7 linked regions of the Homo sapiens genome follow. The protein of the gene in region 1 purifies or fractionates together with the protein of each later gene. This does not show direct contact. Each region holds a gene or a part of one and is shown on either strand. Other genes may lie near its edges.

Region 1 (3,500 bases):
GGCCATATTAATCTTCATCATCAAAATTTTAGCACATGTCCTATGAGAGAATGTACATACCTTCTCACTGAAATTTCTGACAGAAAAAGATTTTAGGTCCATAGAAGACAGTATTCTAAATCAATTATGGGATTAGAAAAATGATGGATACATGGGATTATAAAAAAGTCGAAGTTAACATGGATCCTTAATTATATTCAATCATTAACAGGGCAAAAAGAGCCATCAATTGGAGATAAGGCCTTTTGTATTAAAATTCGTTCTGCATTTATTCCCTTATTTTATTTTTTTTGAGACCGAGTCTAGTTCTGTCACCCAGGCTAGAGTGCAGTGGCACAATCTTGGCTCATTGCAACCTCTGCCTCCCAGTCCCAGGTTCAAGCGATTCTCCTGCCTCAGCCTCCCAAGTAGCTGAGATTACAGGCACCCACCACCATGCTAATATTTGTATTTTTAGTAGAGACGGGGTTTCACTGTGTTGGTCAGGCTGGTCTCGAACTCCTGACCTCATGATCCGCCCACCTCAGCCTCCCAAAATGCTGGGATTACCAGCACGAGCCACCGCGCCCGGCCTATTCCCCTATTTTTAAGACAGGACATAGGGGTTTTTCTTCAGCAAGTATACCTAACCACTCTGTGACAATCACAATTAAAATTTTTCTGTGTGGAATGTCAAGATTTAAGAAGTACTTAGTGGTTCACACCCATAATCCCAGTGGTTTGGGAGGCTAAGGCAGAAAGATGGCTTGAGTCCAGGAGTTCCAGATCAACCTGGGCAATATAATGAGACCCTGTCTTGACAAAAAAATTTAAAAATTAGCTGAGTGTGGTGGTGCACACCTGTAGTCTCTGCTATTCAGGAGGCTGAAGCAAGAGGACCGCTTGAGCCCAGGAGGTCGAGGATGCAGTGAGCTATGATCATGCCACTGCACTGCAGCCTGAGCAATAGAGCAAGACACTGTCTCTAAAAAAAAAAAAAAGCAATCAACCAACCAATCAACAAACAAAAGAATACATGTACTCAATCTACCAAGGGTAAGCACTCATGTTAGATACTTTCATATATTTTTTTACTATCACTATGATACTTTACAGATGAGGAAATTGAGACCAGAAGGCTAAATTTTTGGCCTAAACTTTTCCAAGGCCAAAATGCTAGTAAATGACTAAGCTAGGATTCACATCTCTTCAATCTATGTCTAGTATACTACATCTCGATTCACTCTTCCTTTTCCACATGTTTAGCTACTCACTACATTCAATTGGTTCTTAGAAGACATGGTAATCACTAAAAGGTCTAACTTCATGCAGTCTCATCATAATGGAACCCTGAACACAAATACAATATATGACCAAAGACAAAAAGTGATTTTTAAAATCACTCTATAAAATTTTCAAAAGAACTAACTATTTAAAAAATGTTTACTGAGTGCTCTCTGGGTCAAGACATCATAGTAGGCAATGGAAATAAGACATGTAAGAATATTACTGATCTATCTCTATTGTCTTGAAGGGCAGTCTATTAAAAAGACAAATGTGATAAAAGAATTGTGATACAGCACAAAAAGCCAAAATGAAAAGCAAGAAATGAAGTAATCCTCAAGTTGGGTTTTGAAAGATAAGCAGCAGTCTGGCCACATTAGGGGTGGAGGTGGGATTCAATATTGCAAAGGAGGAAACAGAATGTTTGAAAGCACTGAGGCCTAACACATCACAGCACATTAAAGGAGCTCTTACATAATACAGAAATGACAGAGATTAGAGAGGATGCAAGGGTGGAGTTTAAAGGTTTCTAAGCAAGGGAGTAACAATCAAATTAGCCTTTCAGAAATCACTCTGGGGCTGGGCGTGGTGGATCACACCTGTAATCCCAGCACTTTGGGAGGCCGAGGTGGGTGGATCGCTTGAGGTCAGGAGTTCAACTCCAGCCGCCTGGGCGACATGGTGAAATCTCATCTCTACTAAAAATACAAAAATTAGCTGGGTGTGGTGGTGCCCACCTGTAATCCCACCTACTTGGGAGGCCGAGGCAGGAGAATTGCTTGAACCCGGAAGGCAGAGGTTGCAGTGAGCCAAGAATGAACCATTGCACTCCAGTCTGGGTAATAGAGCCAGACTCCTTCTTTAAAAAAAAAAAAAAAAAAAAGTCCAGGCACAGTGGCTCACGCCTATAATCCCAACACTTTGGGAGGCCAAGGCGGGCAGATCACGAGGTCAGGAGTTCGAGACCATCCTGGCTAACAGGGTGAAACCCCGTCTCTACTAAAAATACACAAAATTAGCCAGGCGTGGTGGCGGGCGCCTGTAGTCCCAGCTACTCAGGAGGCTGAGGCAGGAGAATGGCGTGAACCCAGGAGGCAGTTTGCAGTGAGCCGAGATTGCGCCACTGCACTCCAGCCTGGGCGACAGAGCGAGACTCCATCAAACAAACAAACAAATAAAAAGAAAAGGCCAGGCGCAGTGGCTCACCCCTGTAATCTCAGCACTTTCAGAGGCCAAGGTGGGTGGATCATGAGGTAAAGAGATGGAGACCATCCTGGTCAACATGGTGAAAACCCCGTCTCTACTAAAAAAAAAAAAAAAAAAAATTAGTTGGGCGTGGTGGTGCACGGCTGTAGTCCCAGCTACTCAGGAGGCTGAGGCAGGAGAATCACTTGAACCCAGGAGGTGGAGGCTGCAGTGAGCAGAGATCGCCCACTGCACTCCAGCCTTGCAACAGAGCGAGACTCCGTCTAAATAGAAATCACTCTGGGCTGTGCACTGTGGCCCATGTGTGTAATCCCAGCAACTTGGGAGGCTGAGTGGGAGGACTGCTTGAAGCCAGGAGTTCAAGACCAGCCTGGGCAACATAGCGATATCCTGTCTCTAAAAAAATTTTTTTAATTAAAAAAAATCCCCAGATTTCTGACCACGTGGAAAATAATGCAACTAAAGGTAGGAAGGTAGGAACAGAAGAAGCAGCTAGTTTTTTTGTTTGTTTTTTTGAGATGGAGTCTTGCTGTGTCACCCAGGCTGGAGTGCAGTGGCACGATCTCTGCTCACTGCAAGCTCCACCTCCCAGGTTTATGCCATTCTCCTGCCTCAGCCTCCTGAGTAGCTGGGACTACAGGTGCCCGCCACCATGCCTGGCTAATTTTTTTGTATTTTTAGTAGAGATGGGGTTTCACCGTGTTAGCCAGGATGGTCTCGATCTCCTGACCTTGTGATCTGCCCACTTGACCTTCCAAAATGCTGGGATTACAGGCATGAGAAAGAGCTAGTTTAAGAACAGATGATAGGCCGGGTGGGGTGGTTCATGCCTGTAATCCCACCATTTTCGGAGGCCGAGACGGGTGGATCACGAGGTCAGGAGATCCAGATCATCCTGGCCAACATGGTGAAACCCTGTCTCTACTAAAAATACAAAAAAAAATTAGCTGGGCGTGGTGGTGGGTGCCTGTAGTCCCAGCTACTCGGGAGGCTGAGGCAGAAGAATGGCATGAACCCGGGAGGCAGAGCTT
Region 2 (3,500 bases), on another chromosome or scaffold:
CGCCTCCCGGGTTCATGCCGTTCTCCTGACTCAGCCTCCCGAGTAGCTGGGACTACAGGCGCCTGCCACCACACCCGGCTAATTTTTTTGTATTTTTAGTAGAGACGGGGTTTCACCGTGTTAGCCAGGATGGTCTCGATCTCCTGACCTCATGATCCACCCGCCTCGGCCTCCCAATCATACAGGTTCTTAAAGGCAGTGACCAGGTCCTAACCAGGGTAATATCTAGTGTAAATGTAATTGAGAGCTTGACAAAGTGGATGCTGAGAAAACATCAGCCAACAGCACAGTGAACACCTGATTTTCTGAGACACAACCATGAGACTTTTTATTTGAGACAAGGTCTCCCTCTGTCACTCAGGCTGGAGTGCGGTGGCACTATCATAGCCTCACTGCAACTTCAAGCAGTCCTCCCACCTCAGCTTCCCAAGTAGCTGGGACTATAGGTGTGCACCACCATGTGCAGCTAACTTTTTTTTTTTTTTGAGACAGAGTCTTGCTCTGTTGTCCAGGCTGCAGTGCAGTGGCATGACCTCAGCTCACTGAATCTCTGCCTCCTGGGTTTGAGTGCGTGCCACCACGCCTGACTAATTTTTTAATTTTTAGTAGAGACAGGATTTTACCATGTTGGCCAGGCTGCTCTCGAACTCCTGACCTCAGGTGATCCACCTGCCTCGGCCTCCTAAAGTGCTGAGATAACAGGCGTGAGTCACCACACCCGGTCCCAGCTAACTTTTTAATTTTCTGTACAGACAGGGTCTATGTTGTCCAGGCTGGCATACTTTCAACAGTATTAAATAAGTAACAGCTATTTCATTTGTCTTGGTTGTAGTGGGGAAAGGACTAACACTGACAAAACTGGGAAACTGCTACATCTATTTATATATCCTGAAAATGATGGTTCAATTATTAAAGCCTTTTTTTAAAAAATGAAAGAACTCCAAACACAGAAACTCACACTTGACAGTAAACCAAATGACTGGTCCTAAAAACACATTTAAAACATGGGGAACAGGCTAGGCATGGTGGCTCACACCTGTAATCCGAGTAATTTGGGAGGCCGAGGTGGGTGGATCACTTGAATTCAGCCAGGAATTCAAGACCAGGCTGGCCAACATGGCAAAACCCTGTCTCTACTAAAAATACAAAAATTAGCCAAGTGTGGTGGTGCATGCCTGTAATCCCAGCTACTGAGGAGGCTGAGGCAGAGAATCCCTTGAACCTGGGAGGTGGAGGCTGCAGTGAGCTTAGATTGCACCAGTGAACTCCAGACTGGGCGACAGAGCAAGACTCCATCTCAAGAAAACAACAGGCCGGGTGTGGTGGCTCACGCCTGTAATCCCGGCACTTTGGGAGGCTGAGGCGGGTGGACCACGAGGTCAGGAGATTGAGACCATCCTGGCTAACACGGTGAAACCCCGTCTCTACTAAAAATGCAAACAATTAGCTGGGCGTGGTGGCAGGCGCCTGTAGCCCCAGCTACTCTGGAGGCTGAGGCAGGAGAATGGCTTGAACCTAGGAGGCGGAACTTGCAGTGAGCCGAGATCGTGCCACTGCACTCCAGCCTGGGCAACAGAGCGAGATTCCGTCTCAAAACACCACCACCACCACCACCACCCCGAAAAAAACCCCATGAGGACTGAAGACCAACAGGACCCTTGCCATGAGACAGGAATAACTGCTGTAGCAGCAGGGAGCCTGCACCAGCACAGACACACTGATGGGACGATAGAAACGAGAATGTGAATGTGTAAACCACCAGAGCCAAGAGTATTTTATTTTCTTCTCAGTGGTATCATATTCTAAATAATGGATGTTTTTCTCTAATTTTTAACTGAGAATGATCAAAATGCATGCATTAGGCCCACCTTCATCCTCATCCTCATCTTCATCTTCTTCATCAAGTCCAAATTCTTCTTCCTAAAGAATAGCAAACAGCATAACATTAAATTAATTCTGCCAAATTGAAAAGTGCATATAGTACAAATTCTGCCAAACTAAGAAGTACAAATAAATGCAACAATATCAATCAAGCAGGAAACTGTAATGTTATTTTTATCTACTTTGATGTACCAAGACCCACTGATTTTCCTTAACGAGCTTTATAATTTTTCTAAGAAAAATTTTTTTTAGAAGCAAGCAGTTCATTTGCTAGATGTTTAATTAGTATATAACTCTGGATAATTCAAGAAAACATCTTAAAATCTCAAATTTCAAAACAGATTTAGACAAAAATTTCTATATCCCATTCATATACAAAGCTTCTTTCAGAACTTTAATGTCAATCATACACCTAATGACATCACACAAACCCCAAGCCTTATTTTTATACTACAAAAGAGGATGCGTTTTGTTAACAACTAATGTTGTCTGCCTGTTTCCCAAACCTCTTTGAGGGTCAAAGTCAAGACACTGTTTTCTCCTGCCCTCGTATAGCATTTATTTCCTCAGGGATCCTCTATTATTGGGTATTTCATAAACCAGACTGTGCTCTTTCAGGGCAGGACCACAATCTCATTTCATTTTGTACTCCCAACTCTTTAACATAGCAGATATATATTTACTGAATTACACTGAATATACAAGAAAAAGTTTAGACTTGGTAAACATAAACTTCCCTACAATTCAATGAAGGAACAGACATACCATCAATTCTCAACATGTCCAGTTTTCTCACCACACTGAATACTCAATTCATTCCTTCCCCCAGAGGGCCAGAACTTACCTTGCACAGCCAGGAACCGTACTAGTTTGAGTTCAGTAGGCATTCTATTTAGTAGTTATTTAAAGCCAGACAAACACTAAATTAACCAGATTCATATTGTAAATGTATTCACAGGTATACTAATTTCTTCAAAAGGTGTTTTTTCTTTTCTTTTGTCATCTTTTTGAAACCCCCACTTTTGTTGTAATTACAAATAGGAAGCAGGGTAGAAAACAGCTGCACTGACCTCCTCACTGACTTCATCGTCGTCCTCATCCCCTTCTACATCTTCATCTTCATCATCTTCTTCATCAAACTCCTCTTCTTCACCATCCTCATCGTCCTCGTCTTCCTCATCTTCTCCTTCTAAAAATAGTCCAAAAGGGATTCATTAAATATCCTCGACGCTCCACAGGGGACAAAGTGTTGAGGATCTGTGGGCTGGCTCACAGAACAAATGCTGTAAGGCCACGAACTGCAGTCACTTTCTTTCTACTATGTGCTACAGCTCAGTCCCTTTGTCCGATAGAGTCCCATAAAATCAGAGAGCTAGAAGTCCTGGTAGATAAGACAAACACTATAATTCTCGCTGATGAAATGATACAATGGCTAAGATTTGCTTCAAAATTATATGGAGTGGGGAAGAAGGTAAGGGTATGCAGGAATAAAATAAGATCAGCTATGACCAATAATTGCTGAAGCTGAGTGATAAGAACATGGGGGTTCATTTTGCTATTATTTTTACCCTTTGTCACTGTCTGAAATTTTTGACAGTAAAAAGTTAAAAAAAAAAAAA
Region 3 (4,288 bases), on another chromosome or scaffold:
TCTCTGCTTCTATCTTTGCCCTCCTACATACAGTCTATCCTCAAGTAACGGTGATCTTGTTCTCATATAGGGTGGTTCATGTATTCTTCTGCTCAAAACCCTGTAAAGGCTTCCATCTCATTGGGAGGTAGAATCCCAAATTCACCCCCTTTCCTCATTCCCTATTTGGAGCCACACTGGCCTTTATGTTCCTGAAATCTACCAGGCATACCTACCCCAAGGTCTTTATACCTTCTGTTCCTTCTGCCTAGATCATTCTTCCTAAACATATGCACAGCTCTCCCTCATGTCCTTCAGGTTTTCACTCAAAGATTACTATCTCAAGAAGACCTTCCCTAACTATCCAATTTAAAACTGCAATACCCATCTCACCCCCAACATACATAAGTACTTTCCTATTGTCTTTTTTTCACAGCACTTTTCATTATTTAACATACTATATTATTTGTTACTGTATATCACCCCCTACTAGAATGTCATTTAATGAGCATAGAATTTTTATCGGTACAGCTCAATATTATGTAGTCCCAGGGCCCAGCATTGTGCCTTACATATAGCAGGTAATCAACAGTATTTGTCAAATGAACGAACTTCAGGAAATGGCACTATCATCTACCTAGACATATAAATAAAAAACCTGGGTGATCCTTCATTCCTTCTTTTTTCCTTATCCCCCACATCCACTCCACCAGAAATCCCAAGGCTCTACTAGCTCTACCTCCACGTAGAACAGCACGAATCTTTGCCCATAATTCCAATGACACCACAATCCCTTGCTTGGTTATTCTGAGATCCATTATATTAGTTACCCTGCTTCCAGTGTTGCTCCTCTACAAGCCATTCCACATGTAACTTCCAGAGTAAATTCTTAAAAAAAATATGTCAGATCATGTCACTCTCCTGCTTAAAACTCTTCAATCACTCCCCGAGGCACTCAGAGTGAAATCTAAACTCGTTAACAGGGCCTAAGAGGCTCTGAATAAGCTGACCCCTGCCTGCATTTCCTACATCATCTTCCACTGCCCTCTTCTATGCTGACTACACTTTAGCTACACTGGCTTCTTCTCTGCTTTTTTTCCACCAGTAGCTTCTGCACTTTCTATTCCTTGTACCTAAAATGATGTTTACCTGCCTGGCTCAATATCATCATTGCAGAGCCACCTTCCCTGTTTACGGGGTCTAAATCAGAAGCCTCCAATTCTAACCTATTCCCATCCAGTTTTATTTTCTTCATAATCTCTACCATAATAAGTCTACACTCACTTGAATGTAAGTCCAAGAGAAGAATGCTTTCTTATCTGTCTTATTCATTACTGTACCCCAACGCCTACCTAGAATAACAACACACAGTAGTTATATGTGATTTTGCATATATACTTAAGTGAATTAAAGAAGTAGTTATTACCCCCTTCTTACATATTAAAATACCCACATAGGCTCAGCGATTAACCTGCTTCGGTTACACAACTGGTTAACAACAGTCAGCAGCAGGAGTTATCTAACGGAATTATATAGACTCTCAACTTACCACTTTCTTTGCGAATGGCTATACAATGCTTTAAGCATCTCAAAGCCTTGCCTATGTTACTTAACTTCTTGTACTTGTTTCCTACTCTTTATTTCCACTACCTTGATCCTTGGAGAGGCTTTCTCTACTGGTGACCTAAGCCACTGAGATTGCCATGTGTTAAAAAGCACTCATAAAATACATATATGTGAAAATTTAGGGGAGGAGGGAAGTGAGAAGGGCAATGAAAAAATAAGTAATTGTGTTAGCCACTGAACAAATCACAATCTGGTAGAAGCACAAACATGTAATTGCAGCAAATGCCTAGCAGAGATACCTGTTTAATGCCCGTCTGATAAATGAGTGTCTGAAGGAAGCACCTGTCAGATTAATATATCAAAAACCACTTTCGTTTTGTCGGTACTTGGTTCAAACACCCCTAATGTTCACAACTTACATGAGGTCAGTACACAAAGCCCATCACAATGAGGGCCTAATTTTTCAACCTAATCTTTTCCCGAAGCAAATTCTGACATCCGAGTCATGCCAGTCTCCGGTAAGTTTGAATCCTGGCTTAACTAAATATACTAAGCTCCCGAGTCTGTCCGTTGTGCTTGAGAAACCCCCCCCCCCCCTTTCCTGGCACAGTCCAGGGTACACAGCCTGCTCTCAGAAACGGACGTCAATCGAAAGCATTCTAACATACGATTCATCAAAGGTTACCGACTAATTCAAGTTTGGGATTTCTGAAAAGAGGCTGAGAAATCCGCGTGGAAGTTGGTGGTTGGGTGCGGCCCATTTCTCTCTCCACTTCCGTGCGGACGAAGAAAAATATCTTAAAACAAAATGAGGTTTTAAAGGTGTTTCAGCGGCAGCAGGGCAGGTAGAAAATCCAAAGGGGCAACAGATTTTCAAGAGGTGGGGAACGAACCCTAAGGCATGTCCCGTCCCCAACCCCTTCTCTCCTCTGGAGGGACCCCTGAACCTAACAGAAGAATAGGCGGCGAGCCTGGATCCCAGCCCCACTCCATGCTTTCCCGCACCGGCGTCTCAACCATCCACTATCCGGCCTCTAGCGTCTGCCGCGCCGCACTCCCACCTCCTCGATGTAGGCCGGCGGGTCTCGCTTGATTAGATTCTGTAACTGCGGCAGGTTGCTGGGAAGCTTGTTGTTGTTTCTGTTGGACATTTTGGCTGCAGACAGACTTCGCGGCGAGCAGTTTTAAAAAAACTCAGACGGCCGGCACCCCGCAATCCCTGCCAGCTGCAGCTTGGACTCGTGTTTCCGGGTATGACCGGAAATAGCGCATGGGACTCTAGGCAGGCGACACCTTAGCGGTTCCTAAAGCGAGCTATGCTACGGAAGCCTCAGAGTGTCAAAATTACTCTCGTTGCCAAAATACTCTGTGGTGTATTGGAGAGCCAGCCACCGCCGACCCGCCCCTCGCCCTTGGGCATATGCTACTACTTAATATTGCCTTGCGTTTCTGAAAGGATCTGAAATGTAAATTTTTTCACGTGTGTTAGCATGTATCGTCATTCCGACACCCATATGAAGCACATAAATGAGGATTAATCGTTTATTTTTAATCCCGCAGTCTAAAATTAGAAACTGACGCCTGTAATCCCAGCACTTTGGGAGGCCAAGGCGGGCCTGAGGTCGGGAGTTCGAGACCGGCCTGATCCACATGGAGAAACCCCGTCTCTACTAAAATTACAAAATTAGTCGAGCGTGGTGGCGCATGCCTGTAATCCCAGCTACTAGGGAGGCTGAGGCAGGAGAATCGCTTGAACACAGGAGGCGGAGATTGCGGTAAGCCGAGATTGCACCATTTCACTCCAGCCTGGGCAACAAGAGCGAAACTCCGTATAAAAAACAAAACAAAACAAAACAAAACTGAAAAGAACCGTGGCGCTAGATAACACTATTCCCTCTTAGGAGGAAAAAAGAGCAACGAGGGTCATATAAGTTAATGTGTATGATTTTAGATATGTTTTTATTTTGGTTTTGGTTGTTTCAACTTAGCGTGACCCATACAAGGGAAAAGAGGGCTGGATAAAATGTGATCATGTTGACCATTAATAAATGCAATTAATCGTTAAAATTCAACCATCGTTATAAGCTTTGTAAGCACTCCTCAGTCAGAGTTTTTAATTCAGATCCTGGTAATTCGAAGAGGAGAATACATTTCTACAATCTCAAGGTGTAAAAAATCAATAAGGGTTGAATGAATGAGGTAGGGTGTTGTGAATTAGAGAGAGAGAAAAAAAAACCTAATTACCCACCCTGTGCCAGGCACTATTCCAAGCACTTGTATTAACTTATTTAATCCTCAGAACAACCCTCTAAAATAGGTGCTATTGTTATCTACATTTTACAGAAGAGGAAACAAGCTCAGGGAAGTTGACTGCCTCAATTCATAGCCTGTGAGGAAGATGAGATTTCAATCTAGACAGTCTTGATTGTAACTACATGAGAAAAAACATAGCCTAACAGCTGGTAGCTGGTTGCTGGTCTGGCAAAATAGCCAGACAATAGGGTTCTGCTTAACCAAAGCAATTTTATAGAACGCCAACCTCATCTGTGACGATGATAAAATGAGCCCCAAACAAAACAACTCTGTAATCACACCTGCACACAAAATAAAGAATGCTTCACAAACCATGTTATTCAGCTGCTTTTGGAGAATGACTTATTTATTAATTATCAAATCAGTTACCTGTGAAGTTAAGAAATAAATGTCAGCAATAAATCTTTTTTAAAAAGCATAGATTTAAATT
Region 4 (3,500 bases), on another chromosome or scaffold:
TAAAATACTTTTCAACTAAGATCAATACAGATATGAACAAATACGATTTTTTAATACTATAGGATGAAATATGTCAACATTGGAAGAGCTGCATGATTTAGTGAATTGGGATTTTTCCAAATAATGTCGTAGAATTGTGGCATCAAGTAAAAGATAAAATAGACAAATGGGTATTACTGTAACAGACTCTGTCAATATGGTTTCAGATTCCACATGCAACACTGAAGTTTTGCTATAATATGTATGAAAGAAGAATACCCACAATTATCTGAAAATGCTTCTAAAATACCTTTCTTTCCTAACCTCTTCAATGAAAACAACAGATCACAACAGACAGAATCAGTAACAGACATGAGAATTTAGCTGTCTTCTCCTAGGTCAGAATAATGTGCAAATAAATATATTTGCAAAAATAGAAAACACTGCCACTTTTCTCACTATATTATTTTGGGGTCTGGAAAACAGTCACTGCTCAAAAAAGATATTAATGTTAGATAATTTGTTATATTTAAATAAATTAAAATGTTTTTTAGATTTCTCAATTTATAAATTATAAATATCAATAGATATAACTCACATACATAAAAGTTTTTTGGGATCCTCCAATTTTAAGAGTGGAAAATGGATCCTGAGACCAAAAAAATTGTGAACTGCAGATCTAGGGGGATATTCAACAAGCTTTAACAGTGGTTATCTCTGGGGTGGGATTGTAAGAAACTGTCACGTTTAGCCGGATATGGTGGCTCATGCCTGTAATTCCTACACTTTGGGAGGCCGAGGTAGGAGGATCACTTGAGGTCAGCATGACCTACATGGTGAAACTGTGCCTCTTCTAAAAAAAAAAAAAAATCCAAAAATTAGCCAGGTGTGGTGGTGCACGCCTGTAATCCCAGCTACTCAAGAGGCTGAGGCAGAAGAATTGCTCGAACCCAGGAGGCAAGGTTGCAGCTGAGACTGCACCACTGCACTTCAGCCTGGGCAACAGAGTGAGACTCCCCACCTCCCCCGAAAAAAGAAAAGAAACTGTCGCTTTCTATCACATATTTTTGTAAATATTCTAATTTGGGCACACAGTGTTTTTTAAATAGGGAAAAAATCTTCAAAAAAGAAAACCCAGCAATGTAGCAATGTTATGCAATGAACAACGTTCAAGACAGACTGAAAAGTTGGTCACATTCTTTATGTTTTCCCCATGTTATAAATATTGTTAGGCCTATCTTATTTCGTTCAAATAGTTTTAAAGGCTTGTAACACATGCATGCTATAATTGCATTTTCATTACAAAAAAATTTAAACATAGAAAAGTCTCAAAGAATGGGTCATGGTTATGACTGGGTCAGTAATTTGAGTTTTTTTTCTCTTAGCTTTTTAGTATTTTCTACTTTTCTATAAAAGCAAATATAAAAAACAAATAGCTCCAAAAGGTCAAATAAAATATCATGCCCAAAAATCAAGACAAAAACAAATTAAAAGAAATGCATGGCTATAAGAGTTCCAGGCACAAAATATCATGTCTGGTTCTCTAGCCCTGCCCATTAAAAATGTACCCACTACTGAAAGAGACAGAATGAAAGAAAACAGCCCAGTTCTAAGGAGCTAGTCCAAGCTGGTAGGAGTCAGCCAGGAGTGAAGACAGGTGCACAGCTGACAAGCACTGCCTCCCTCCCCACCCCGAGATCAGTTACCTTTCCAGGTTGTAATACTCTAGCCACATGTTGGCGTACTTGGCATTTCCTCTGGTCATGATGCTATCCCAGAGTTCCCGAGCTTTCTGCATGTTATTGCACAGTCGAGCCTAAAGTGCATCAGCAGGCTGTTAGGAGACCTGAACCTTATGACGTCGACACCCATCATACAACACACTTCCAACAGACACACATAAAAAGCACCCCACAACTATTAGTGTTACAGATGTCCCTGGGCATTCCCCAGGCCTCCCTCCAGTGGTAAACGACCCAGCCCAAACACTTGAGCCTTTCTGCAGCCACAAGCTAATCTACCTATGTTTCCTGAGAACCGAGAGAGGGAGCGCACGGTACTTACTCGACAGTACTAGATAGTCACGTTTTTTATTTTTATCAAGCTTAACTACAAGTGTTTGAGAGACAATGTTAAAAAAAAAAAAAAGACTGATCTAGTATTAAATGCACACTCTGCTACTAATACTTACAAACTGTGACTTGGGCAAATTACTTAACCTGTAATTCTCAGTTTTCTCATCTTTAAAATGGTTAAAAGATAAGCATCCCATATAAAAACTACCTGACAAATGTTAGTTTCTTCTATCTGACGCTCCCTCCGAGGAGAAAACATGATTAGAATTGTTACAATCCTACCTGCTGATCAAGGGAGGTTCCGTGTCTTACTGACCTTGGTGTCCCTGACCCAGTAATGACATTCAAGTCATCATATCCTCTAATTACTTGTCAAATCATCTGTCTTCTACATTAGATAGAAGCCTTACTAGCAAAGGAATTTTATCTGTCTTATTCCCACAGCACCTAGTACAGTGCTGACAAACAGTACACGCTCACTGTGCTCTCACAAATGAAGCAAAGAGGCAGAGACAGAAGTAAACGAGTGAATACCTAGCATCTAAACATTTACTGCACAACTTCTAGCTGGGAGCTAATATTTTCACCAACATATTTACAAATATATGTCAAGCTAGGTAAATAACATGAATCCTTGTGGAGCCTAGACCATTACCTAGGTAATAACATAAATCCTTATAGAGCTTAGGCCATTATCTGGGATTCTGACTCAATTTTAATTAAAGTTTAATAGGATGCTATTAAACAATGATGGATGAAAGTGCTAGATGTGTCAAAAACATTTACCTCAATCCTAGCCCAGTTCTGCATAATCACGCAGCTTGGATCACCACTCTCATTGAAACCTTCAAAAACAGAATTAGTAAAATTAGAAAGGAACTTGGAGACAGATAGTCGCTGGCTGAAAAGGTACATCAACCAGGAAATAGTACAGACAAGGAAATACAACTGGGCAAAACCACAGGCTGGGGCATACTTACGCTCTTCCACCTCCTGCTTCAGATACTCCAAGGCACGAGTAAAGGCGGCCCTCAACTCCTCCAGCTCTTTACTGGAGTCTAACGGAAAGTGCAAAAAAAGGCTTTAGGAAACCACATAGCCTGGCTTTGTTTTATTTTTTATCCTATGCTGAAACTGCCTGGAGACCCACTATGTACCTGGCATCATGCAAGGGACACAGAAATAAAATTGCCAATTCCTGCCCTCATCACATAGTTGGGGAGAAAGAAATTTGAACAGAATAGAGCATGGACAGCGTGGTGAAAAAGGCAAACACAGGGTGCTGTGGGGGGGAGTCTCCCCCAGCTGGGGTGACACAGGCAAACAAGAGAATGGCTAAAGGCTACCTGTATGAGGTGACAGCTGACATGAGTGTGCAAGTACAAGTTAGGGGTTTTCTGGTTGTTTTCGGGGGGACATGAAGGGGCAAAGGATCCCACAGAGGTA
Region 5 (3,500 bases), on another chromosome or scaffold:
GGCTAATCCCGGTGCTGAGGTTGTTTAGAGCGTCAAATTGCTGTTGAGTATGGGGCAGTACAGTTCATGAATTGAAAAAGTCCTGCTGGGCGCGGGGGTTCACACCTGTAATCCTAGCACTTTGGAAGGCCGAGGCGGGCGGATCATGAGGTCAGGAGTTTTAAGACCAATCTGGCCAGCATAGTGAAACCTCGTCTCTACTAAAAATACAAAAAAATTAGCCAGGCATGGTGGCGTGTGCCTGTAGTCCCAGCTACTCAGGAGGCTGAGGCAGGAGAATTGCTCGAACCGGGGAGGCGGAGGTTGCAGTGAGCTGAGATCGTGCCACTGCACTCCAGCCTGGGTGACAAGAGCAAGACTCCATCTCAAAACAAAACAAAAAAACCAAAAAAACCTCCTACACAGAGGTAAGATGTAAGTTTTTTTTTTTATTTCAGAAGATTGCATTCCAAAGCCAGATATTGGTAATTACTCACTCTGAGGGTTTATCTGTGCCTTTCCGGAACTGAGTGGATAATCAGGAGTTAGCTGAATTTTCAACAAGGGCTATTTGTGGTAGTTACCAGGGGCAAGTGGCCAACTTCACATGGCTAATAGCCTGGGATGTCTTCCTGAAGGATGTTCCCAGAATCAAGGACAGTCCTAGTGTGGCACCTTTTTTTTCTTGGCTGAACCTTTAGACTGGCAAAGCCCTAGGTGTGGGGAGGGGAGGATTGTGGGTCTTCATAGATGAATTTTGTAAAGCCAGCTTGGTAGATCTGTCATATATGGCATGGGACTTCTCCATCTCAGTTTGATGTGCTGTTAGTAAACCTAGATGATTCCTCCATGACAGGCCTTGTTTACAGGCCACTTTGTAATTATTCTCCAAACTAGTGGTAACCACCTTACTCTCAAGACATACATTCCAGCCACTCAAAGTTGCCTTTTTCTTTGCCTTAGAATGGAGTTGCAAGCTTCTCAGAGGAAATTAAGTCCCACAGTAGCCAGGAGCCATCTAGATAAATGATCTGATAGAGATAGGGCTCTGTATGGTTTTTGCTCTGCTTTTCACTTAAACTAATTTATTTAGGCTCTTGATAATTCAGAGATAAGTAATAGTACTGGAATAGTCACCATTTACTGCATTTACTGAGTGTCTCACCTGTTCTAGCCCAAGTGATCTGCTGAGCAGATGCTTTTTTTTTTTTTTTTTTCTTTTTTTGAGAAAGAGTTTCTCTCGTTGCCCAGGCTGGAGTGCAGTGCACGATCTCAGCTCACCGCAACCTATGCCTCCTGGGTTCAAGCGATTCTCCTGCCTCAGCCTCCCAAGTAGCTGGGATTACAGCCATGCACCACCACGCCTGGCTAATTTTTTGTATTTTTACTAGAGATGGGGTTTCTTCATGTTGGTCGGGTTGGTCTCGAACTCCTGACCTCAGGTGATCTGCCCACTTCGGCCTCCCAAAGTGCTGGGATTACAGATGTTAGCCACCGCGCCTGGCCCAGCAGATGCTCTTTTTATTCCCACTTCACAGATGAGGAAAGTGAGACTCAGGAGACGTTTAGCAACTCTGTCCTTCTAATTGCTCAGACTAAAGACCTTAAGATCATCCTTGCCACCTCTGTTTTTTTTTTTCTGGCTGGTTGCAGTGGCTCACACCTGTAATCCCAGCACTTTGGGAGACCGAGATGGTAGGATCATGTGAGCCCAGGAGTTCAAGGCTGCAAGTGAGCTGTGATTGTGCCACAGTACTCCAGCCTGGGCGACAGAGTGAGACCCTGTCTCTAAAAAGTAAATGTCTTTTTGTGACCCCACATGTAATGTACTAGTACATCCTTTGACAATTAAACACTGTGTCCTGGCCGGGCACAGTGCCTCATGCCTGTAACCCCAGCACTTTGGGTGGGAGGCCAAGGTGGGCAGATTGCTTGAGCCTGGAAGTTTGAGACCAGTCTGGGTAACATAGGGATACCCCATCTCTTACAAAAAAAAAAAAGTACAAAAATTAGTCGAGCATGGTGGTGCGTGCCTGTAATCCCAGCTCCTGGGGAGGCTGAGGTGGGAGGATCACTTGAGCCTTGGGAGGTAAAGGCTGCAGTGAAAGATGAGTGTGTCACTGCACTCCAGCCTGGGCAACAGAGCAGGACTGTCTCAAAAAGAAAAAGCTGCCTGGGTGCGGTGGTTCACGCCTGTAATCCCAGCACTTTGGGAGGCCGAGGCAGGTGGATCACCTGAGGTCAGGAGTTCAAGACCAGCCTGGCCAACACAGTGAAACCCTGCCTCTACTAAACATACAAAAATTAGCTGGGCGTGGTGGCATGCGCCTGTAATCCCCAGCTACTCGGGAGGCTGAGGCAGGAGAATCGCTTGAACCTGGGAGGCAGAGGTTGCAGTGAGCTGAGATTGCACCATTGCACTCCAGCCTGGGTGACAGAGCAAGACTTCATCTCAAAAAAAAAAAAAAAGCTGCATCCAGGTTGGGTGTGGGGGCTTATACCAGTCATCCCAGCACTTTGGGAGGATCACTTGAGCGCAGGAGTTCAAGACCAGCCTGGGCAACATAGTGAGAGACCCCATCTCTTTAAAAAAAAATTAACTGGGTGTGGTGGTGCATTCCTGTGGTCTGAGCTACTCTGGAGGCTGAGGTGGAAGGATTGCTTGAGCCCAGGAGGTCGAGGCTATATTGAGCAAGAGCCACTGCACTCCAGCCTAGGCAATGCAGTGAGACCATGTCTCAAAAAAAAAAAAAAAAAAAAAAAAACTGGCTGGGCGTAGTGGCTCACACCTGTAATCCCAGCACTTTGGGAGGCCGAGGCGGGAGGGTCAGTTGAAGTCAGGAGTTTGAGACCAGCCTAGCCAACATGGTGAAACCCAGTCTCTACCAAAAATACAAAAAGTAGCTGGGCGTCATCGTGCACACCTGTAATCCCAGCTACTTGGGAAGCTGAGGCACAAGAATCGCTTGAACCTGGGAGGCAGAGGTTGCAGTGAGCCGAGATCATGCCACTGCTCTCCAGCCTGGGCAACAGAGCAAGACTCCATCACAAAAAAAAAAAAAAAGAAACAACAAAAAAAACCTATGTCCAGATCTAAATGCTTGTACCGCCTCGTCTCTTGCTGGCCTGGACCATACATCATCATTTCTCATGTAGATTTTTGCAGCAGCCTCTTAACTGGTCTCCTATCACTCCTACTTAAAGCCCTCTGGTAACTTCTTAGCAGAGTAAAATTCAGAGTCCTTAGAGTGTTCTCTAAGACCGCACTTGATCTGGTCTCTGTCCACCTAACCTCTGACCTCATCTTTCATCACTTGCCCCTTCTTCACTCATTCCCTTCCAGCATCAGTCCTCACTTCCTGAAACATGTCATGTACTCTTTGCTTTGGGTCTTATGTTCTGTAGTGCTCTTCCCGCAGATCACTGTGGTGGAAATGCCTTCCCAGACCACCCTATATAGACTAGCAAGTCCTGACCTTGGATTCCCTCTCTCCATCCCTCTTACCCTGCTTCATTTTTCT
Region 6 (3,500 bases), about 43 Mb from region 1:
CCCTACTTATTTCACCAACTGTATTTTGTAGTATTCTTTATAATAAACTGGTAAATGTAGGTTTTCCTGAGTTCTGTGAGCCACACTAGCAAATTAACTGACCCCAAAGAGGCAGTCATGAAAACCATAACTTGAAGCTAGTCAGTCAGAAGTTCTAGAGGCCCAGACTTGCAAGTGGTGTCTGAAGGGGCTGGGGAGTCTTGTGGGACTGAGTCCTCACCCTGTGGAGTCTGACGCTATCTCCAGGTAGTGTCAGAGTTGAACTGGAGGATACCCTGCTAGTGACTGCTGCAGAACTGATTGCTTGCTTGGGGTGTGTGGAAAAAGTCCCCCACCTCCACCCCACATTTAGTCACAGAAATCTTCTTTGTTGATTGTTGTGGTATGAGAGAAGAGGAAAATTGTTTTTTTTTTTTTCCACTTACATACCAAAAGAGGGAAAAAAATATCTGGTACCCCAGAATTCTACATCCAGTGAAAATATTCTTAAAGAAGGTAAAATAAAAATATTTTCAGAAAGAGAATAAGAGAATTTGTCACTAGCAGATCTACAAGACCATAGAGAAGAGCCTAAAAGATAAAGAATAGAGGGAGACTTCAAACATGTAAAAGACATTTGCAAAACTGTTTTCTCTACCAGAAGGCATTTTTAAGATGATCTTGCCCAATCCCTTCATTTTACAGATAGGCAAACCAATAAAATTAAAGACTGTAAGATACTATAATTACCCAGCAGTTAATCTACCGGAAAGTAAGTCTATCGAGTTCTTAGTCAAAGGAATGGAAGGAAATAAGATTTCTTTCATAACGAGTCAGAATACTGTCATAAACAAGGCAGAATACAAAAATTCAGTAACAGGACCCTGTTAAAACTGGCATAGACAGGCTGGGCACAGTGGCTCACACCTGTAATCCCAGCACTTTGGGAGGCTGAAGGGGGCGGATCACTTGAGGTCAGGAGTTCAAGACAAGCCTGGCCAACATGGTGAAAATCTGTCTCTACTAAAAACACAAAAATTAGCTGGGCGTGGGCCAGGCGCCGTAGCTCCCACCTGTAATCCCAGCACTTTGGGAGGCCGAGGTCAGGAGTTCGAGACCAGCCTGGCAAAAAATGGTAAAACCCCGTCTCTACTAAAAATACAAAATTTAGCTGGGCATGTTGGCAGGTGCCTGTAATCCCAGCTACTTAGGAGACTGAGGCAGGAGAACTGCTTGAACCCAGGAGGTGGAGGTTGCAGTGAGCACTGCACTCCACCCTAGGTAACAGAGCAAGACTCCGTCTTAAAAAACAAAACAAACAAACAAACAAAAAAAACCTTATTTCTTAAAAACTACTAGAGCCTAGTGTAGCGGCACACACCCACAGTCCCAGCTACTGGGGAAGAGCTGAAGTGGGAGGATGGCTTGAGGCCAAGAGTTTGATTGAGCCCCAAAAAGAAAAAAGGCAGAAAAACAAAACAAAAATCCCCCAAAACAACCTACTAGACAGAGGTATTTGTTGCATACTTACGTAATATAATTAAGATAATCATGACATAAAAAACACAAAAATACTCCATTGCATAAAATACTATTTTGTTATATAAGGACATGTCAGCCAGGTGCAGTGGCCCATGCCTGTGATCCCAGCACTTTGGAAGACGGAAGTGGGTGGATGGATCACTTGAGGTCAGGAGTTCAAGACCAGCCTGGCCAACATGGTGAAACCCTATCTCTACTAAAAACATAAAAAATAGCTGGGCATCATGGAGCGTGCCTGTAATCCCAGCTACTCGGAGGCTGAGGCAGGAGAATCGCTTGAACCCAGGAGGCGGAGGCTGCAGTGAGCCGAGATCACTCCAGCCTGGGCGACAGTGCAAGACTCTGCCTCAAAACACAAAGAACTTGCCAGAAGTGGTGGCATGCACCTGTAGTCCAGCTACTAAGGGGGTTAAGGATGAAGGACTGCTTGAGCCCAAGAGTTTGAGGCTGCAGTGAGCTATGGTTGTGTCACTGCATTCTAGCTTGGGTAACAGAGCAAGACCTCATCGCTTACGGGGCAGGGGGAGTGTCAATGGGAGCAAACATGTCTAAAATATTACTGATTTTTCTATTTTATTTAAAGTATTATCATTGGTAATGAATGGAACATAACAGACTCTGAAATTTCTGGTGTATAAATACATGAAATAAAGCCATAAGACACAAAGATTAATGGAATTTCTCAAGCCCCTAAGACAGGTATATAATAAGGATGCAATCCACATCTTCAGAAATTTTGTCCAGTGCTGAGACAAAACAAGATGCCAAATTTCATTACGAAACACGATATATCTGAAAACAGTGAAAAATTACTATCTTGAGTCTCTTACGCATATTGAGTTTGTACAACTTTACAACATACATCTCAAGTGCTTCGCCATAGGTACTTACCCCAAAAGCTGGAACTTCTTCACTCTTTATTTCATTTATTCGAACCAAATAGTTAACAAAGTCTCTGGCAGCATTGCTTTGTGCATCTTTTTTATTGGTGGAATTTCCCATGCCAGTGTAATTATAACCTTCCACCTGAACCTTTAAAAAAAAAAAAAAGTACTAAGAGACTGACCTGGGTAATTCTGAGATTTTAAAAAGTCGTAATTCAGTAGTCCATTAAGAGACAACAAACAGCTAACTTTAGGAAATATACTCTATAAATATAAATATAAAAATAAGAGAATGCATGAGCTACTGAAAAAGCTTAAATTGTGTTGTATCCAAAAATAATTTAAGTGGCTCAGATTTTTTTTTCTCATATAACAGAAGGTTCACATTAAAATCTGATTCTGTAATATCCATGAACAAGCTCTCCATTTGTATTTAAGCACTTTGATTTGAAGCAATCAAGAATTGCTCTGCTTTCTAAACGTGCTTATAAAACTGCAAACAGTTGATCCAACTTTTCCCATCCCCACTACTGGTACTGAGGAAGCTGAGGAAGATATAGGCTCTAATTAGAATAATTTACCTGTCAGATTGTTTTAAAAGTAATGCTGACTTGAAAATGATTTACAATAGCAGTCAAGTCACAATAAAGAACTGTCGTTTCCTAATGTGCAACACATTAACATCTCCAAACAGAAAACATTTTTCTTTTAACCCCAAAATGAACCTCATAAATCACATAAATGCAAACTGTATTCTTCAGTACCTCACACATGAATTTCTGCCTGTTTTTGTTCCCCACTGCTCTAATTTCATAGGATGGGGTCATCTTCCTTTTGCCACACCAGGCATACAGAAAATTTTTAACGTCACCCATGATTCAAGTGTCTTCTTCAGATCTAAGAAAACAAAAGTCAGTTAAAAACAGCATTTATAATAGCAAAAACTGGGAGGAACCAATTATCTAGATTACTGAATCTGGGTTAAACATAGGATATTCTATCATGTTGCTATTAAGACTCCCCATAAATTTTAACGACATAATTGGAACGTTTATATGTTGTAAGAAAAAGGATACAAAACGGTATGATTTGAAC
Region 7 (3,500 bases), on another chromosome or scaffold:
AGAGACGTGGTTTCACCATGTTGGCCAGGCTGGTCTAGAACTCCTGACCTCAAATGATCCAGCCTCCCAAAGTGCTGGAATTACAGGCATGAACCACCATTCCAGGCCTGTATCTAAACACTTTGAAGTGAAATAAATTTAAAGTAAATATGCATATGTTGGTATAGCTTGGAGAACGTTTTTATTCTTTTGGGGGAGTACTTGTCTTTACCACTTCATTAATAACTGAATGCTTATAGGATTTTTTTTTATTTTTTGAAACAGAGTTTCGCTCTTGTTGCCCAGGCTGGAGTGCAATGGCACGATCTCAGCTCTCCGCAACCTCCGCCTCTGGTTCAAGCCATTCTCCTGCCTCAGCCTCCAGAGTAGCTGGGATTACAGGCATGCACCACCATGCCCGGCTAATTTTGTATTTTTAGTAGAGATGGAGTTTTTCCATGTTAGTCAGGCTGGTCTTGAACTCCTGACCTCAGGTGATCCACCTCGGCCTCCCAAAGTGCTGGGATTACAGGCATGAGCTACTGCACTGGCCAGGAATTTTTCAGAAAGATTCAGAATTGTTTTTCTTAATGCCTTGAGATACACTTCTTTAAAGAATGAACAGTTGAGACTGTTGTGATTAGGCAATTTAGAGCAAATTTACCACATGCAACTGTTCAGTGTGCATCAGTTACCTTTTAACATAAAAAAACTCAAGTTTATTGTCTTTACCAAGAAGAACACAAGCTTTGAAGGGTATCAGAATATTTTATATAAATAAACAGACATACTAAAATACAAACAGGTAAAAACTAGCATTTTCAAATCTACTTGGTTAAACATCTGTTGCTTACTATAGAGAACATGAAAGTGCAGAAAATGCATGAAGCGATTCCATCCTGGAGGTAATTTGAAATATTATGTTTAAGTTCTGATGCATTTAATTCAGCAATCTGGTGGGAGAGAAAAATCAAAGAGCTGCATCAGCCAGGTATTCAACTTTTGAGAAAGAAACTCTAACAAATGTTAGAAATTAGGGGAAAAAACTGAATGGGAGAGTTAAAAAAGTCAATAACCTCCAGGAAGCCTGGAAACTATGTAAAAACATCTTATTGGAAGCCCAGATAAATGTGTGCCAGACATCAAAAAGACCAACTGCTCGGGGGAAGAAAAAAAGAACCCGGCATGACTAACTGGCAGAGTAAAAGAGGCTGCTTCAGGGAAAAAGGCATCTTTCACAAAATACAAAGAGTTTAAGCCAGAAGAGGGAAGTCCACTAGGTTTCACAAGGCCCAGGTACAAACTAGAAATTAAGTGGGCTGACAGAGAATTGAAGTTGAATCTTGCAAGGGATTTGAAAGATGGCATGTGTGATAATAATGGTGAAAAGGGTGGGTTGAGTCCAACCTATCTAGGGAGAAGCAATATGGCTTCTTTAAGGGTAAACCATGCCTGATTGATCTCTCGGGATTCTTTGTGTGGAAAAAAAAGCATGAGGATACAGGGAAGCAGACATACATCATTTAGGTTTTTAAAAATTATGCAATGGGATTCTAAGGCAAAGAATATTCAGAAAATATATTTACTTTGAGATAGGTGGGGATAGTTGGACAGAGAGGGAGAGTGAGGGAGGGAAGAGACTCCACTGTTGTAGATGGAGTAGTTTACATGGAGAAGACATGGCTTGTTAGGATGAGTAGTTCTAGCCTAACTCTGGCAAATTTGTTGTCAAATACCTTTGGTGAGGTTCTTCCCTCTTTGAAAAATGGGGTGAAATTGAACCACCTGGCACCTGAGGAGCTTTTAAAATATACTAATGCCTGGGTACCACCCCATACCAATGAAATAATACTTTTTTCAGGAAGGACTAGGCCATGATGGATGGATGGATGGATGGATGAATGTGTGTGTGTGTGTGTGTATTTTTTTTTTTTGAGATGGAGTCTTGCTCTTGTCACCCAGGCTGGCGTGCAATGGCGTGATCTCAACTTACTACAGCCTCCACTTCCTGGGTTCAAGCGATCCTTCTGCCTCAGCTTCCCGAGTAGCTGGGACTACAGGTGTGTGCTGCCACACCCGGCTGGTTTTTTGTATGTTTAGTAGAGATGGGGATTCACCATGTTGGCCAGGCTGGTCTTGAACTCCTGGCCTCAAGTGATCCACCCACCTTGGCCTCCCAAAGTATTGGTATTACAGGCGTGAGCCACTGTGCCTGGCCCATGGTAGTTTTTTTTAATTTTCTTTTTTTTTTTTTTTTTTTTTTGAGACGAAGTCTTGCTCTGTTGCCAAGGCTGGGTGCAATGGCATGATCTCCACTCACTGCAACCTCCGCCTCCTGGGTTCAAGTGATTCTCCTGCTTCAGCCTCCTGAGTAGCTGGAATTACAGGAGCACACCACCACTCCTGGCTAATTTTTTATATTTTTAGTAGAGACAGGGTTTCACCATGTTGGCCAGGCTGGTCTCGAACTCCTGACCTCGTGATCCGCCCGCCTCGGCCTCCCAAAGTGCTGGGATTACAGGCGTGAGCCAGCATGCCTGGCCTAGGTCCCTTCCATCTCTGAGATTCTATTATTCTAAATTTTCCAATGAGATTCATCACAAAATGTTGTTTGAGATAAAGCCTTTAGTTTAGAATCAGTGCATGGTTGTTTTAATTTTGGCTAACTTGGATTTAAGAGAAAGGTGTGTCAAACATGGAGGAAAATGTTTTCAATCAAGATATAAGTGTGAACCACAACTGAGTGCTGCTTTGCTGCAGGTAGAGACATAAGACAAGCACAATGAGAATACTTTGGAAAGAATTAGAACAGAATCCAGCCTTGCTGTCATTTATTGATTAAGTGTCAACATGCTAGGTGATATTTCTTCCCTTTTTCTTTATTGGTAAAATTAAAATAAATCTCTTTATCCCTTACTTTAATGTCCTCTTTGCCATGTGTTTATTCTCTTCAAGTATCTTATCAAGAAATAGAAGTACAGTAAATCCCTAGGCTTCTAGCTGGTGCAACCATCCAGAACACAGCTGGGAATGTGGAAGTAAGCAGAAAAGCCAAATGATGGAAACAGCTGTCATAAAGCCCATGCATTCTATGTGGAGAAAAGGCCTTCAGAAATTTATTATCAGCAATCATTGAATGGCTCCTGTATCCAGAGCAGTATGCTGGGTGCAGGGGATTCCAAGAGGTGTCAAGCAGGAATCAAGCTTTTGAGGAACTTGCATTCAAATTAGGTAGATAGGGTTTATACGTGAGAAGATAAAATGCTTTGGTTATCCAGTTTCCCAGTCTATGGCAGATTAGAAGTAGCAAATGGTATTGGTTGGGGGCCGATGGGAATCACAGGAAGGGATCGTGTTAGAGGCAGGTAAGACTTGACATCTGGAAGAAGTGAGAGAGGACAGTTGGAGGGTGACCAGAAGCTGAATGGGAGAGCCAGAACTTGCTGATCTTGGCAGTTTGAGATCTCCTAGAATGGGCGAATGCTCAAAGCCACCTTTGTAACCATAATCATCGAGGGCAC

What was found.
Region 2: the proteins of SRP9 (region 1) and ANP32B purify together in Homo sapiens (affinity purification with mass spectrometry; one large-scale study listed by BioGRID and IntAct). This does not show direct contact.
Region 3: the proteins of SRP9 (region 1) and SDAD1 purify together in Homo sapiens (affinity purification with mass spectrometry; one large-scale study listed by BioGRID and IntAct). This does not show direct contact.
Region 4: the proteins of SRP9 (region 1) and SART3 purify together in Homo sapiens (affinity purification with mass spectrometry; one large-scale study listed by BioGRID and IntAct). This does not show direct contact.
Region 5: the proteins of SRP9 (region 1) and LARP1 purify together in Homo sapiens (affinity purification with mass spectrometry; one large-scale study listed by BioGRID and IntAct). This does not show direct contact.
Region 6: the proteins of SRP9 (region 1) and DHX9 purify together in Homo sapiens (affinity purification with mass spectrometry; one large-scale study listed by BioGRID and IntAct). This does not show direct contact.
Region 7: the proteins of SRP9 (region 1) and GPC4 purify together in Homo sapiens (affinity purification with mass spectrometry; one large-scale study listed by BioGRID and IntAct). This does not show direct contact.

What each region holds. Positions count from the first base shown.
Region 1 is NC_000001.11:225,784,326-225,787,825, reverse strand, and holds part of SRP9 (signal recognition particle 9 kDa protein), read right to left. Parts: intron 965-3,500; coding exon of another isoform or gene 857-964; exon of another isoform or gene 841-856; intron 1-840. UniProt on the Homo sapiens protein: Component of the signal recognition particle (SRP) complex, a ribonucleoprotein complex that mediates the cotranslational targeting of secretory and membrane proteins to the endoplasmic reticulum (ER).
Region 2 is NC_000009.12:98,010,841-98,014,340, reverse strand, and holds part of ANP32B (acidic leucine-rich nuclear phosphoprotein 32 family member B), read right to left. Parts: intron 3,071-3,500; coding exon 2,952-3,070; intron 1,921-2,951; coding exon 1,869-1,920; intron 1-1,868. UniProt on the Homo sapiens protein: Multifunctional protein that is involved in the regulation of many processes including cell proliferation, apoptosis, cell cycle progression or transcription.
Region 3 is NC_000004.12:75,988,146-75,992,433, forward strand, and holds the start of SDAD1 (protein SDA1 homolog), read right to left. Parts: upstream 2,801-4,288; 5' UTR 2,697-2,800; coding exon 2,607-2,696; exon of another isoform or gene 2,566-2,606; coding exon of another isoform or gene 2,551-2,565; intron 1-2,550.
Region 4 is NC_000012.12:108,533,674-108,537,173, forward strand, and holds part of SART3 (spliceosome associated factor 3, U4/U6 recycling protein), read right to left. Parts: intron 3,113-3,500; coding exon 3,035-3,112; intron 2,900-3,034; coding exon 2,841-2,899; intron 1,796-2,840; coding exon 1,686-1,795; intron 1-1,685. UniProt on the Homo sapiens protein: U6 snRNP-binding protein that functions as a recycling factor of the splicing machinery. Promotes the initial reassembly of U4 and U6 snRNPs following their ejection from the spliceosome during its maturation.
Region 5 is NC_000005.10:154,761,877-154,765,376, forward strand, and holds part of LARP1 (la-related protein 1), read left to right. Parts: intron 1-3,500. UniProt on the Homo sapiens protein: RNA-binding protein that regulates the translation of specific target mRNA species downstream of the mTORC1 complex, in function of growth signals and nutrient availability.
Region 6 is NC_000001.11:182,842,347-182,845,846, reverse strand, and holds part of DHX9 (ATP-dependent RNA helicase A), read right to left. Parts: intron 3,303-3,500; 5' UTR 3,281-3,302; coding exon 3,170-3,280; intron 2,554-3,169; coding exon 2,413-2,553; intron 1-2,412. UniProt on the Homo sapiens protein: Multifunctional ATP-dependent nucleic acid helicase that unwinds DNA and RNA in a 3' to 5' direction and that plays important roles in many processes, such as DNA replication, transcriptional activation, post-transcriptional RNA regulation, mRNA translation and RNA-mediated gene silencing.
Region 7 is NC_000023.11:133,405,490-133,408,989, reverse strand, and holds part of GPC4 (glypican-4 precursor), read left to right. Parts: intron 1-3,500. UniProt on the Homo sapiens protein: Cell surface proteoglycan that bears heparan sulfate. May be involved in the development of kidney tubules and of the central nervous system.